2 linked regions of the Homo sapiens genome follow. The protein of the gene in region 2 interacts with the protein of the main gene of each other region in a pairwise test. Each region holds a gene or a part of one and is shown on either strand. Other genes may lie near its edges.

The links. The genes of interacting proteins can lie anywhere in the genome.
Region 1: the proteins of PLA2G4A (region 2) and XAGE1B interact in a two-hybrid assay, tested with the Homo sapiens proteins (one study listed by BioGRID).

The regions. Positions count from the first base shown.
Region 1 is NC_000023.11:52,514,064-52,521,510, reverse strand, and holds the start of XAGE1B (X antigen family member 1), read left to right. Parts: upstream 1-4,447; 5' UTR 4,448-4,531; exon of another isoform or gene 4,532-4,660; coding exon of another isoform or gene 4,661-4,851; intron 4,852-5,937; coding exon of another isoform or gene 5,938-5,983; coding exon 5,984-6,079; coding exon of another isoform or gene 6,080-6,095; intron 6,096-6,606; coding exon 6,607-6,733; intron 6,734-7,447.
Region 2 is NC_000001.11:186,943,912-186,951,001, forward strand, and holds part of PLA2G4A (cytosolic phospholipase A2), read left to right. Parts: intron 1-2,725; coding exon 2,726-2,863; intron 2,864-2,957; coding exon 2,958-3,050; intron 3,051-6,745; coding exon 6,746-6,817; intron 6,818-7,090. UniProt on the Homo sapiens protein: Has primarily calcium-dependent phospholipase and lysophospholipase activities, with a major role in membrane lipid remodeling and biosynthesis of lipid mediators of the inflammatory response.

The DNA of each region.
Region 1 (7,447 bases), on a different chromosome or scaffold from region 2:
GTGGTGTTTCTGTCTTCTGAATCAATGCACCTCTCTATGATTATTATGTAATGTCCCACTTTGTCCCTTGTAGTAATCTCCACTATAAAGTGTGCTTTGTGAGATACTAATTTCACACTTTGAGTTTATGTGATTCATATTTGCAGGAAATATCTTTTTCCATCTTTTACTTGTATCTTATTTATTTGTAGAGTGGGGCTCTTTTTTTCAAGATACAGATTACTGATAAATATACTGTGAAAATCAAGATCCTCTTGCAACTGTGCAACAACAATAAAAGTACCGAAAAATTAGATGCAGAAGTTAATATACAACTAAAATGTTACGCAGAAATCCACAGAATAATCTGCTCGGCTCTTCAAAAGAACCTCAATCAAACTCTTTGACAGCCTTCATAGAAAGATATCTTCACATTAAAGTGGTATATTTATATGAAAAATATAATTTTATCCCCCTATTTTCTACAGTAGGGTTTTGGGTAAAATTTCATTTCACGAAGGTGTTCTTTTGCTAAAAATCCTTTGAGAAACAACTATATAAAATGATCTCTCAGAGCTCTCTTAGCTTTGAAATGTGGAGATTCAAATATCCCTCTGTAGATTGAGGAGGAGATGTAAAAAAAAAAAACAAAACAAAACAAAAAAAAAAACAAAAAAAACCACGGGGGAGGAAATGTTGGTCTCCTGCACTTTTCTTTTCTTTTTCTTCCTAGACTAACCAGTTTGTGTTGGTCCTCCGCTGAGCTGTTAATCCAGGGAAGAGTTGCCCTTCTGAAGAATATGTGGATTTAATGGAGACCAAGGCAGGTTTGAATCGCTCAGAAACAACAGCCAGAATAACTTTTGAAGGGCTGTAAATGAAGATGATTCAAATCCTCTGATTTATGTTACTTTTCACTCAAGTTTCTAAAAGTGCCTTCCCATCAAGAGCTGTTTGGCTAGGGACAGAAACGTTTGTTCAGCCCTATTTTTCTCTTCCTTCCTTCCTTCCTTCCTTCCTTCCTGCCTCCCTTCCTGCCTCCCTCCCTCCCTCCTTTACTTCTTTCCACCCTCCCTCCCTCGCTCCATTTGTCCTTATTTTCTCCCTTCCTCCCTGGCTCCCTTCATGCCTCACTCCCTTCCTTCTTTCCTACCTTTTATAAAAAGAAGTGAACTGATATTTGTAAAGTAGAAAGATCAGAAGAGTTCACAATTATTTTCGAGTTTTCTTTTAACTTTTATTTTGGGTTCAGGGTGCATGTGCAGGTTTGTAATATAGGTAAACTCATGTCATGGGGTTTGTTGTACAGATTATTTCATCACCCAGGTAGTAAGGCCAGTGCCCATTAGTTATTTTGTTGATCCTCTCCCTCCTCCCAGCCTCTACCCTCTGATAAGCCCCAGCGTGTTGGCCCTCTCTGGGTGTCCATGTGTTCTCAGCAATTAGCTCCCATTTATAAGTGACTTCATGTGGTATTGGGTTTTCTGCTCCTGCATTAGTTTGCTAAGGATAATGGCCTCCAGCTCCATCCGTGTTCCTGGAAAGGACATGATCTCACTGTTTTTTATGGCTGCATAGTACTCCATGGTGTATATGTACCACATTTTAAAAAGTGCAGTCTGTTATTGATGGGCATTTAGGTTGATCCCATGTCTTTGCTATTGTGAGTAGTGCTACAATGATCATACATGTGCATGCGTCTTTATAATAGAAAGGTTTATGTACCTTTGGGTATAGTCCCAGCAATGGGATTGCAGGGCCAAATGGTATTTCTGTTCTTAAGTCCGTGAGGAATTGCCACACTCCTTTCCACAATGGTTGAACTAATTTATACTCCAACCAACAGGGTATAAGCGTTGCCTTTTCTGCACAAACTCACCAGCGTCTGTTATTTTTGTTCTTGCTTTTTATCCAGCCTTATAGACTCTGACTCTGTTTTTTGAGACAGGATGTCTTTCTGTCTGTGAACGTGAATTCCGCTGGTGTCTGAGACTTGCCAGGATTCCAGCTCTCTCAAATGCCTGTGTTCGAACTTTATGAATTTGCTACATTTTCACTGGTTTTCTTCTTACCCCCTGTTATGGCTGTCACTTCTTCCACACATGCTCTGCCACAGGTGATGCAGTTTGTTTGTCTCATCCCTCCTCAGAGGGACTAAGTCACCATTTTGGATCAGTTCCCATGGCTGCCTTGTTACCTCAGGTCTCTCATGATCTAAAAACAAAGCAAAACAAAAGATAACGTTATAGATTATTAGGCTGTTTTTCATTTTCAAGGCTAAAGTGACTTTCTCTTGAGGCTTTCTAAATCTTACCTGGTGGTAGAACTCTCCTTTGTTAATCTTTTGACTACTGGTACAAAAATACAGCATTCAAATATGTGAAGTAAAAGATAATCCAGGGGCTAGCTGACTATGGCTTGAGATCTAAATACAGCCCATGGCTTGTTTTGCATAGCCATTGAGATAAGGATTTTTTTCCATTTAAAAGTATTATTGCTAAAAAACACAACACTACGCCACAGAAACTACATGACCCACAAAGACTGAAATAATTACGATCAGATCTGTTAAAGCAAAATTTGGTGATGCCGTATTAATCAAATACCTGTTATTCTGCTTTGCATTATTGCATACATCTTTTCATCCATTAATTAATTTATTTACACACGGATTGAAAATATGGATGTTACTCTATCCCCTCAAGAAAGCGTCCAGCTTTATGATACCATGATTTCAGTCTGGGAAACTTGTCCCAGGGATCAGGTCAATACACAAACATACATTTGAGGTAGGAGACTGGCAGGACTTGTTTTCTGGTCATAACTGAGCCTAGAGCCTACAGTCAGAATCTATGGCTATTTCTGAAACATATACTGTCTGAATGACCTACAGGTATATTCAGGGAAATCAGTTACCAGTCCAGAGATTTAAATGTGAAGTAACACAACCTAAAAAGAAAAGAGTAAACAGGTGTGAATGTATTTATTCTACAGAAGAATTTATTCAATTACGTTTATTGGAAGCATGGCAGAAAACCCAGAACCAGAGAACAAAGTGATTAATAAAAGCATTTATAAAACTGGCCAAGGTGGGAGGATCACTTGAGCCCAGGAAATTGAGACCAGCATGGGCAACACAGTGAGACCACTATCTAAAAAATAAATAAATAATAAATAAACCAATTACCCAGGTGTGGTGTCTGCACCTGTAGTAGCAGGGACTGGGGAGGCTACATCGGGAGGATTGTTTGAGCCCAGGAGATGGAGGCTTCAGTGAGGTATGGTCATGCCACTGCCCTCCAGCCTGAGCAACAGAGTGACACTCTGTCTGGAAAAAAAAATAAATAAAAACGGCTTTATAAATAAAGATATGAAAATAATTTATTTCTTCCACAAAAGGTCTTCCTGAGACACATCCTCCAGTAAGGGACTGTCTGTTCCCAACGTTTCTGAATGCATGAGATTGGACAAAGAGAGACGAAAGCTCTCAAGTCCCTTTTTCTACTACAAACGCCATGGGGATGCGGGTCTGGGAACAGCGGAAAACCCTACCCTGCCCTGAAAAGTCCCTGGCTCAATGTGCATGTCCCTTTCTATGAAAGTTCCTTGCTGCCTATGCGCCTTGCTCTCTAACTTCTGTCCCTCCACAACTGTGAAAGGAGACGTCGTGACTTCCTTCTTTCGTGCTGACTATGACTTAGCCAGTAGGTCTGCAGATCAGTCCTCCCAGAAAGTGAAGTGTGAGTGAGTGTGAGGGGGAGCGTGGGGGGCTTCCTGTGGGTTGTGCCACTTGGTCCATGGCCTCTGAGGTCGTCATCTTTCTACTAAAACTCAGCGATACTGCCATGGCCTTGCTGTTGTGGGGTCCCGGGCATGGGACGAAGGAGGGCCATAGCGGGGAGGAGGGTCAGGTGAGCATGGAGTGAGTTTTTTTTTTTTTTTCACGGAGTCTTGCTCTGTCACCAGGCTGGAGTGCAGTGGCGCAATCTCGGCTCACTGTAACCTCCGCCTCCCGGGTTCAAGTGATTCTCCTGCCTCAGCCTCCCGAGTAGCTGGGAGTACAGGCGCGCACAACCACACCCAGCTAATTTTTGTATTTTTCAGTAGAGACGGGTTTTAACCATGTTGGCGAGGATGGTCTCGATCTCTTGGCCACATGATCCACCCGCCTCCGCCCCCCAAAGTGCTGGGATTACAGGCGTGAGCCACCGCGCCCGGTCATGGAGTGAGTTTTGAAGGCTGACTTTATTTGAGGTATTTGAGTCCTGGTGGGGGGGAACCCACACACAGAGAGGAGGGATTCCAAAGTCGTTAATGGGGACCTGGGAAGGAGCATAGGACAGGGCAAGGCGGGATAAGGAGGGGCACCACAGCCCTTAAGGCACGAGGGAACCTCACTGCGCATGCTCCTTTGGTGCCCACCTCAGTGCGCATGTTCACTGGGCGTCTTCCCATCGGCCCCTTCGCCAGTGTGGGGAACGCGGCGGAGCTGTGAGCCGGCGACTCGGGTCCCTGAGGTCTGGATTCTTTCTCCGCTACTGAGACACGGCGGGTAGGTCCACAGGCAGATCCAACTGGGAGTTGAAGTGTGAGTGAGAGTGAAGAGGAACCAGCAGGCTTCCGGAGGGTTGTGTGGTCAGTGACTCAGAGTGAGAAGGCCCTCGAAGTCGTCGTCCCTCTCATGCGGTGCCACGCCCATGGACCTTCTTGTCTCGTCACGGCCATAACTAGGGAGGAAGGAGGGCCGAGGAGTGGAGGGGCTCAGGCGAAGCTGGGGTGCTGTTGGGGGTATCCGAGTCCCAGAAGCACCTGGAACCCCGACAGAAGATTCTGGACTCCCCAGACGGGACCAGGAGAGGGACGGCATGAGCGGTATGGAAGGGTCCTGGAGACGGGGCATGCTGCGGGCTAGTGACCGCAGCCCCGAGGTCTGTAGAGTGCCTGGCATAGGGGTCCTGTGAGGAGTGCCCACTGCTGTGTAGCAAATTCTCAACTCCACTGTGGAGATTCCAATGGGCGGGGCCCTGAGTTCCTAAAAATGTGACTTTGGGGTGGGGGGGAAGTGGGCCTAGCAAATCATTATGTGACAAAATTGGTGGTCACTGCAGTTTCAGTTCTGTAGCTGTAATTTCCTACTTGTCTCCCTGATGGAGTGTCCAGTTGTGAAACCAACCTCATGGGAAATGCCCTGTGTTTTTTGCCAGGAGCCTTAAGACATCGCTCAGCTAGCTAGACCTACTTAAGTGGCTTTGCAAGCATTCGATTCAAAAGGTGCATACACTTATACTTGCCCGGGGACTTTCAGAGTATTTCTAAATTAAAAAAAAAAAAAATGTCCAAGTTAACATTTGACCATGAAAGCGGTCAAATCTAGTTGTCCTGTCAAGTGCATTTTCCCAATCGCAGTATTCTGCTTGCAGAGTGAAGTATGTGTTGATGAGGACGATCAACATATAGGCCTATGCCAAGAAGTTCACAACCTCCTGAGCTCATTGTGCCTCTGCTTGTGAATGTCTTAACATTCGATGTTTTCTCTTAGCAGAAAGTTATTTTTCTGATAGTGTTGATGGACTAGTATGGATACACTGATAATGGTCTCCCATGCTGATAAAAAATGATCATGGCATCCCATGAAGGAAAGATTAGTCCAGAGGGTTATATTTGGGTTTTGTGTGGGTGGATGATCGTGTGTGCCCAGATTTTGTCCATAACTTCCTCCTCATGCTTATTCAGAACAGATTACACACATTCATCCCAACATTGATTAAAACGGCTTCCAAAGTCCCTGAGGATATCTGTCTTTGAGTAACCTCTCTGAGGGAAGAATAGTGTTATGAAGATTAGGTATACGGGGTAGTGTTGGAGAAATGTCTCTAGACATACTTATAATAAGACATACCTGTGTATTCTGTATATTTATATTATTGACATGTATTAATAACAAAACTTTTTATCTAGACACACACAAACACAGAACCACACAGCCAGTCCCAGGAGCCCAGTAATGGAGAGCCCCAAAAAGAAGAACCAGCAGCTGAAAGTCGGGATCCTACACCTGGGCAGCAGACAGAAGAAGATCAGGATACAGCTGAGATCCCAGGTGCTGGGAAGGGAAAGTATGTCTATGGGGCGGGAGAAGGTCTATGTGTGCATTGTGGCCTATGCCATGAGCAGTAACAGGAGCAAAGAGAACATTAGGAAAAGATACCAAACATTTGCTCAAAGTTGGCTGGAAAAGGGAGAGTATAGTTTGCAGCTTCATGCTGTCCCTGGATATAATGAATCTTCTCTTGTTCTTCGAGATGGATTTTGTATGCTTGAAAATACAGTCCTTACTAAATCACTTGAAACCATTTAATTTGGTGTATAGAAATGTACATTTTTTTATTATGTGGCAGAGGCTCATCTGTCACGCAGTGTGGATTGTTGTGGCATGATCTTGGCTCACTGCCACCTCCAGCTCTTGGGTTCAAGCGACCTCGGCCTCCCAAAGTGCTGAGATTACAGGCATGAACCACTACGCCTGGCTCAGGCTTTATTTCGTAACGCGAAGGAAGAGAATATTATCATTTCCTTATTTATATTTCATGTTGGAATGCTTAAATCGATAACCTTTGTATTTTGAAGTGCGCGACATGGAAGGTGATCTGCAAGAGCTGCATCAGTCAAACACCGGGGATAAATCTGGATTTGGGTTCCGGCGTCAAGGTGAAGATAATACCTAAAGAGGAACACTGTAAAATGCCAGAAGCAGGTATGTTATCCAGCAAGATGCAAAGTTATGTGCTTTCTCATTTACACAGTATTATACTTTTGATAATAGAGGGATAACATTAGTGCTACTTTAAAAACACAGTGCAAATGCAAATGTTCTTTGAAACGTCGTTCAGACCCAAATGCCAGATTGCAAGACTTAAACACTATCAGATACAGAAACAAATTGGGTCAAAGCCATATTGAATCATCAAACGTGACAGCATTTTCTTAGTTTGGTGTATAACCAACAGCTAACAATTTTCAGATTCTTTTCTAATTTCTGCTTTTAACAAACACATAATGCATTTGTAATACCAGTTTGTGTGAAGTATGCTGAGCCCTGAAGCAGATTCTAGTACCAGCTCTACCATAATTTGTGAGAGTCTGGATGAATCGTATAAATTCCACAGGCATCCTTGCTCTTAGTGAAAAGAGTGGATGCACATCAGATAGATTAAAATCCATTTCGTTGCTAATTTCCACATGCTCTGGTTCTGTTGGATAGAAGACCAAGATATTCTGATCTTCATGATTTGTTTATCATAACAATCAGCTTCAGTCCAATTATAGTGTCTGAGTTGAGATTTCATGGTTCCTAGGAAAATGAGCGGGCACTCTGCTTGGTGTTTGTTTTCCTGTGTGGAGCCCTGTATGAGTGTTCTTGTATTTTGCCAAATTCTGAGTTCTCTGTCTCTTAAAGAATAATTGCATT
Region 2 (7,090 bases):
TTTTGAAAAAGTCACTTTGGTGACCAATAAAAACAGAATGGAAAGGAATGAAACTGGAAGCAGAGATATCACTGTGCTTTTGTGATAAGGCCCTGGAACTAGGGACATACTGATAAGAAAAGAATAGATGGATATGAGAGGCCTAAAGGTTATCGGTGTGATGCAATGATGGATTTGATAGAGTGATAGCATGGTTTACTGAAATAGGTAAGCTGGCCCGGGAAGAAGGGTGATGAGTTCTTATCTAGGTAAGTATAGTGGGAGGAGATGACAGAATATCTGAGTGTAAGGGCCCCAAAGGAAGTTGAAAGTACATGGAAGCGCAGGAGAGAGGTTGGAGTCAAAAGGTAGAGTCACCAGCAGGAGAGAATTAGTTGAAAACTAACACCGTGAGTTCTTCAGTGAGGGGTGCAGAGCTCATTTTAGCTTTTGAGAATGCCTAAGTTACTATGTGCCCAGGCCATGGCGCTAATCAAGAAGAGATCGCTAGAAAAGCAGGAACCAGGAAGTTGTTATGCCTCAGTTCCCATGATAGGGTTGTGAAATTGAGAGATAGGAAATTACTTGTATGAATACAGGAATTTTCCTAACAGCCTCTGATTCATTGCTAGTTATGTCTCACAAATTCCACGTAAATCGTTGTAAATCACACCACTTTCTGATGAAGAATATATGTACCATTTGGCTTTGACATATAATGAATTACAATGTTATCAAAATTGTGATTTCATCACTTCCTTCATGAAAGGAAGGTGTTGTGACCTACCATTGAACAAACAATAAATATAGATCCACAATTCCTTTTCCAAACCTTTGGTGACATGTGTTTTAGAATTCAAAATGTTTGGATTTTGGAGATATAAAGATACTCATATTGTGTATTACCTAATACCCCATTGGGTTCTTATAATCAGTGATATTTCTCCAATAGGATATATAAATATCCACATTGAGTGGGATAAATGAATTATAAGAGCCCCCACTAACATTCAAGCCTGATTTCTCACTAAATGAATTCAGATTAGATTTTACAAACAAATGAGTAACAAAGAAGCTTATGAATTTTTGAATTGTTTGGATTTTGTATTGTTGGATAAGATATTACAGACATATTATAATTTCAGAAAGAGAAAAGCTAGAAAAAAAAATGAAGTGGGTTAGAGAATTATGAGTTGGGCAGGGGTGGATGATGTTGGGATTTTAAAATGGACCATCAGCAAAGACCCTAAAATAAAGATTAAGTAGGAGCAAGCATTATAACTGCAGAAGGGAATAGCAAGTGTAAGGTGCTGAAGTGGGAATGAACTTGACTTCTTTGAGGAACAGCAAGAAGATCTGTGCCGTGTGGCTGAAGTGAAGTGGGATACGCAAGACAAAATGTGATAGAACATTGTTAGGAGGGATGTGGTCACATCACACAGGGAGTGGGATCTAGGCCAGGACGGAAACTTGTCGGCCCTGTTTTTATTTTCAGTGTAATGGGAAGCTTTCAGATGACACTGGTGTGCTGTGATTTATATTTTTAAAGATTTATTCTGGCTATGGGATATCAAAAAGATAATAAGTGAACAGAGTAGAAGCATTTTAGGAGGTTATTGTGGAGGTCCAGGAGAGAGAATACAGCAATTTGTATCAGTACGATCACAGTGGACAAATGGATAAGTGACCAGGTTCTAAACATACCTCGTGATAGAGCCTACAGCACTTGATTTTTCCTGTGTAAGCTATAAGGGAAAAGAGAACCATCAAGGGTAATCCTGAAGTGAGTAGTGGCATGAATAATATAGTACCATTTACCAACAAGAAGAAGAATGAAGGAGTTGCAAATGTAGAAAATGGGAATCAGAAACCAGGAGTTCTTGCTGAAGACATCAAGATGCAGATGATAATTAGACATAGTCGTAGCCATGGGAATACATGAAACATAAAGTGGCTACTATTTATTGAGCAATTAAAATGTGCTATGTCCTCTTCTAAGCTCCTTACATTTCTTAACTCAGTGGATCTTCAAAACAATCCTACACACTATCTACTTGTGATATGTGATTTTATTCACATTTTATAGATTAGGGACCTAAGACAGAGAGAATAATACCCAAGTCAGTAAGCACAGCTCATAAGCAGCAAAATAGGATTTGATCCCAGACAGTCCAGCTCCAGAGCCCCCGCGCTTAGACAGTATACATCTCTGGCACTATTACCATGTTTTTCTAAGGCATTCAACCTAAAAACTTTGTATTGCAATCTTGTGGAGTTAGAATAGACAGTTAGTGAGCAAAATTGAAGTGAAGGTGAAGAAAAGATAAATGTTAGAAAACATTTTATTTCATTTTAATAAACTGTTTGAATTGCTTAGAAGAGTTTAATTTATTCTGTATGCTCCATGAAATTTATATCTAGTTAGCAGTTTTCAGTTTCCTGTTCTGTAGAATGAAAACTGGCTTCAAAAAGACATCTGAGTTTTTAAATAGAAAAGTGCATCTAATTTCTGCAAATTAGAAGGGATCTTTTTGTATCGTCTTGTCTTATTCACCTCTAAGCGTTTTTCCCCCAACTTCTACACAATGTCATATACATAATGGGCATTTGGCTAATGTTTTCATTTTGATATTTTAAATACATGAATGAGAATAAGCATAACATTATTAAAGTGATCATTAATTGTGCACACCATGCCATAGCATTTTCCTATTAATGGATTGCCTTGTTTTTAAAATACTTTCAGATTGGGTTGAATTTAGTCCATACGAAATTGGCATGGCTAAATATGGTACTTTTATGGCTCCCGACTTATTTGGAAGCAAATTTTTTATGGGAACAGTCGTTAAGAAGTATGAAGAAAACCCCTTGCATTTCTTAATGGGTAAGTGATCAAAATAAAAATATATCATTGACTTGCTTGACTATTTTGAAACCTGGGATATTTTAAGTTATTTTCTGTTTCTGTTTTATTTTAGGTGTCTGGGGCAGTGCCTTTTCCATATTGTTCAACAGAGTTTTGGGCGTTTCTGGTTCACAAAGCAGAGGCTCCACAATGGAGGAAGAATTAGGTATCCTAAAGATATGCTTACATTGATACAAATCTTGCTACATTGATAAAGTTTATTGACATATATAGAGAGAATATTAAATCTTTGTAAATATTTCAACTATTCTAAATTTATTAATAATTTGGTTGAATCAATCTAAATATTTCCTAAAAATAATATGTTACTTCTTAAGTATTATTTTGACACTGAGGTTATAAAACTCATAAAAATCATTGATTTCTAAGAGTAATTTTTAATAGAACACATCTCTATTCCTTTTTCGCATTATACTGCTAAACATACTATTTGTATTAGAAAGTCCTCTTTTTATCAAATAAGAATAGCTTTTTAAAGATTAGATTCACCAACAGCTAAATACAATGTAACACTGAAGCTTATGCTTGTCAGTTTATTTAACCCTTAAATATTAACTCACCAGAATTCTGTTAGCATCTTATATTAATCTATACCCAAAAGAAGGAAAAAAATCAAATCACCTCTAGTACACTTAAACTAATGATTTTCATTAAATCTAACCTATTGGCCTATAATAAATTACGAATATTTACAAAACCTGAGAAAGTAGACAATCTCAACTGGGGACCAGTGGTTTTCATTCATTATAGGAATACCATAGAAACATGTTTTCTTAAATTAATAAATTTGACTTAAAGCAAACAAAAAATTTATATTCAGTTTCTTCCAAAAGCCTTGCCACCTGTATTTTAATCAACATTAATTTTTGGGTTGACTGTTTTGACTGATAGCATAAAGAAATGGTGGCATGCTAAATCTGAATTTGGAGCCATAACAGCAGGGACCTGGGAGAAGTGCCTGATGGACTATCAACACAACTACCTACTATCTCTTCTCTATCTGGGAAGTAGCAAAGATCTATCTGAGAACAAAGAAGTCGACAGAATAACATTGATGACTTTTTAAATAATTAATTTATTTGAAGAATGCTTGCATACAAAAAGCTTCCTGCAGGAATTTTAAACAAGCTGTCCTTGGTTATCCCAGGCAATGTCAGTTGATTTAATTAAGTTTACATGCAAAAGAGAATACAATTGTAACATTAATTGGAACATTAAGTTGGCTTATAAGCAGTATTTCCACTGCTCCTACAATTGATTTTAGTTATTTGATAATTTATTTAATATTTGTATTTAGTGTGGTAAACTCCTGTAGTTCATAATATTTTCAAGAGTGTCATTTGTATTTTTGTTAGTTCTTAATGAATAATGGAAAAGTTATCTTATAATTTCATTGGAGCCAAAGATTTTAAAATAAAAATAAAAACAAACACACAAATAAGGCACCTTGTGTTTGTTTATTTTCTGTCCTCTGATCATCACCCAGTTAATGAGCAAACAAGGTAGGTGGCACCCATGAGCCTGCTGTGACATTTACCACGGGGCACATTCTCCTAAGAGTAACTGCAAGGCAATGTGTATAATGATAAAATGATCTTACTTGATTTCTTTTAATGAACATTATATCCCAGATGAATGTCCTGTTCCCAACTCTTTGTGGAAATAACAAACCCTTTCTCTAAGTTATGTGAAGATTTTAGAAAAAAAAAAAAAAGAAGAAGAAAGAGAAGATCACATATTGAGGCTTGCTTCCTGTGCCCCTCTGTTGAATAATCCAGATAACCCAGGGTTTGCTGTTTTTTCTTCTTAAGGCAGGAAGAGAATAGGACTGAAATAACAGATCTGAATGTGGGTGAGACAGTGGCTAAAAGCCAAGGAAAAGGAGGAGGTTTATACTAGGTAGTTTTGAGAAGGTTCTTTGTTGAGAAGTTTCTTTAGAGGCCGGCAGTCTGGCAGCTTATTGACTCGGACTGTGTGTCAGACTGAGGGGGAATATCGTGTATGTGTGATCCGCCAGTCAGCAGGAAGCATGTTACCTCAGATTAAGTAAGGATTTCCAGAAATGAAACCAGAGAGGTGACCAAGAGGACTCTGAGGACTCCTGGTGACTACTCTATCCTTTGGCTGACTGAAGTCTATCTCCTAAAGGAGTGTTCAGAGATGATTTTTACTTTTTTGTTTTCTTCCTTCTGAAGAAAGACTTTAAGGTAAATTGGGCTACAATCAGGTAACTCTGAATGAAACTACTTACTCTCTAAGGAGTTTTGAATGAATGTGAAAAATTTACACTTTTGAGAGATGGAGTTGTACATTATACTAGGATGGAAAATATGTAAATTCAGAATAGTTAGCTATTCATATCGTGAATTCTTCCTTACAAATAAGACAGTATTTTGGTGAACTATTTTCTTAAACTATCATATGTGACAGAAAGAAAGAAAGGAAAGAAAGAAAGAAGAAAGAAAGAAGAAAAAGAAGGAAAAAGAAAGAAAGAGAAAGAAGGAAGGAAGGAAGGAAAGAAGAAAGAAAGAGAAAGAAAGAAAGAGAAAGAAAGAAAAGAAAGAAAGAAAGAAAAAAGAAAAAGAAAGAAGAAAGAAAGAAAGGCAATAGAAAGAAAGAAAATACTTAAGGAAGGAAAAGAAAATAAATGTAGGACTAGAAACACACCTAATGTATATGGCACCTGGGATAGATCATTTCTTAACATCTCCCACACCTCTGTGTAACAAAATTACTATTGATGATAGCCATGAAATGAAACTAATAATATTAGCTTGTGAACATTTAATCAAATTTTTTATGTATAATCATGCCAGTAAAAACTTAAAAAATAAATGTCAATCCATTGCCTTAAGCATTTATTAACCCTTCCATTACTAACTCTTGCTCATTCACGCACATTTTACTTGAAAAAAGACAACTAGTCTGGGCACTGTGGCTCACACCAGTAATCCCAGTTCTTTGGGAGGCCAAGGAAGGATGATCACTTGAGTCCAGGAGTTTGAGACCAGCCTAGGCAATAGAGTGAGACTTCATTTCTACCAAAAAAAAAAAAAAAAAATTAAAAAAATTAGCCAAGCATGATGGTCCATGCCTATAATCCCAGCTACTCAGGAGGCTAAGGTGGAACGGTTGCTTGAGCCCAGAGGCAGAGGTTGAAATGAGCAGAGATCATGCCACTGCAGGCCAGCCTGGGTAACCATTTAAAAAACATAAAGAAGAAAGATAACTAGTTATTATGCTAGAATTTACTGCTGTCTTTGTTTTAAGGATTTCTGGTTGTTATTTTAGTTTTTATAACTGCTCTCTTAATATGTTCTGCAGGAAGCACAAATTCTTGACACCAAAAGGTGAATTTCAACTGACAATTTTCAATATTATTGAAAGTCAAAAGATAATTTATGTTAGTATCTTTCATTCATTTTAAGAAAACTGTTTGGTAGCTCACCTGTAGATTTTGGTTTTATCCTTTATCTTCATAAACACCACTTAAAAATATCTAATAAAGAAAAAGGCATATTTTTTGGTATAACAAGGAGCTTCCTATAATCAAGTTGTTATTTTTGTCAGAATTATGATAAACATAAAATTATCCTCTTTAAGTCATGAATTAATAAATATAAACTAATTTTTCATGTCCCAGGAAATTTTGTTTCCAGTGAGAAATCTGAGAACATGATTAAATCTAATAAATCTAGAATTATTAAATGGATTTAAATTTATACTAGTAGAGCTAGTAGATCTCACTCTGTGGTTTTGCTCAGATTACTTTTTTATATTAAAATTAATTGTTAATTTTGACACCTGAAATGCTTCAATTTTTTTGTTTTCTTTTCACAGAAAATATTACCACAAAGCATATTGTGAGTAATGATAGCTCGGACAGTGATGATGAATCACACGAACCCAAAGGTGAGTGAGCCGGAAACTTTTCTGGCCCAGATCCATGAGGAAAGGATATGAACACTCTGTCTGATTTTCTCACTCAAGATGCTGATGGTAATCTTCACTTCAGACACGGAAGTGATAAAATTGTAGCTTTCTGTTGAGAGAGAGGATTGCATGTTGCATGTCTAATAAAATAGGCAGCACATATAAATCCCTAATTTATTTTGTTTTAATACCTCAAAAATACTATAAGTTGAACAAATGAACAGATCCAAGATGGTAGAAATGCTGAATTCT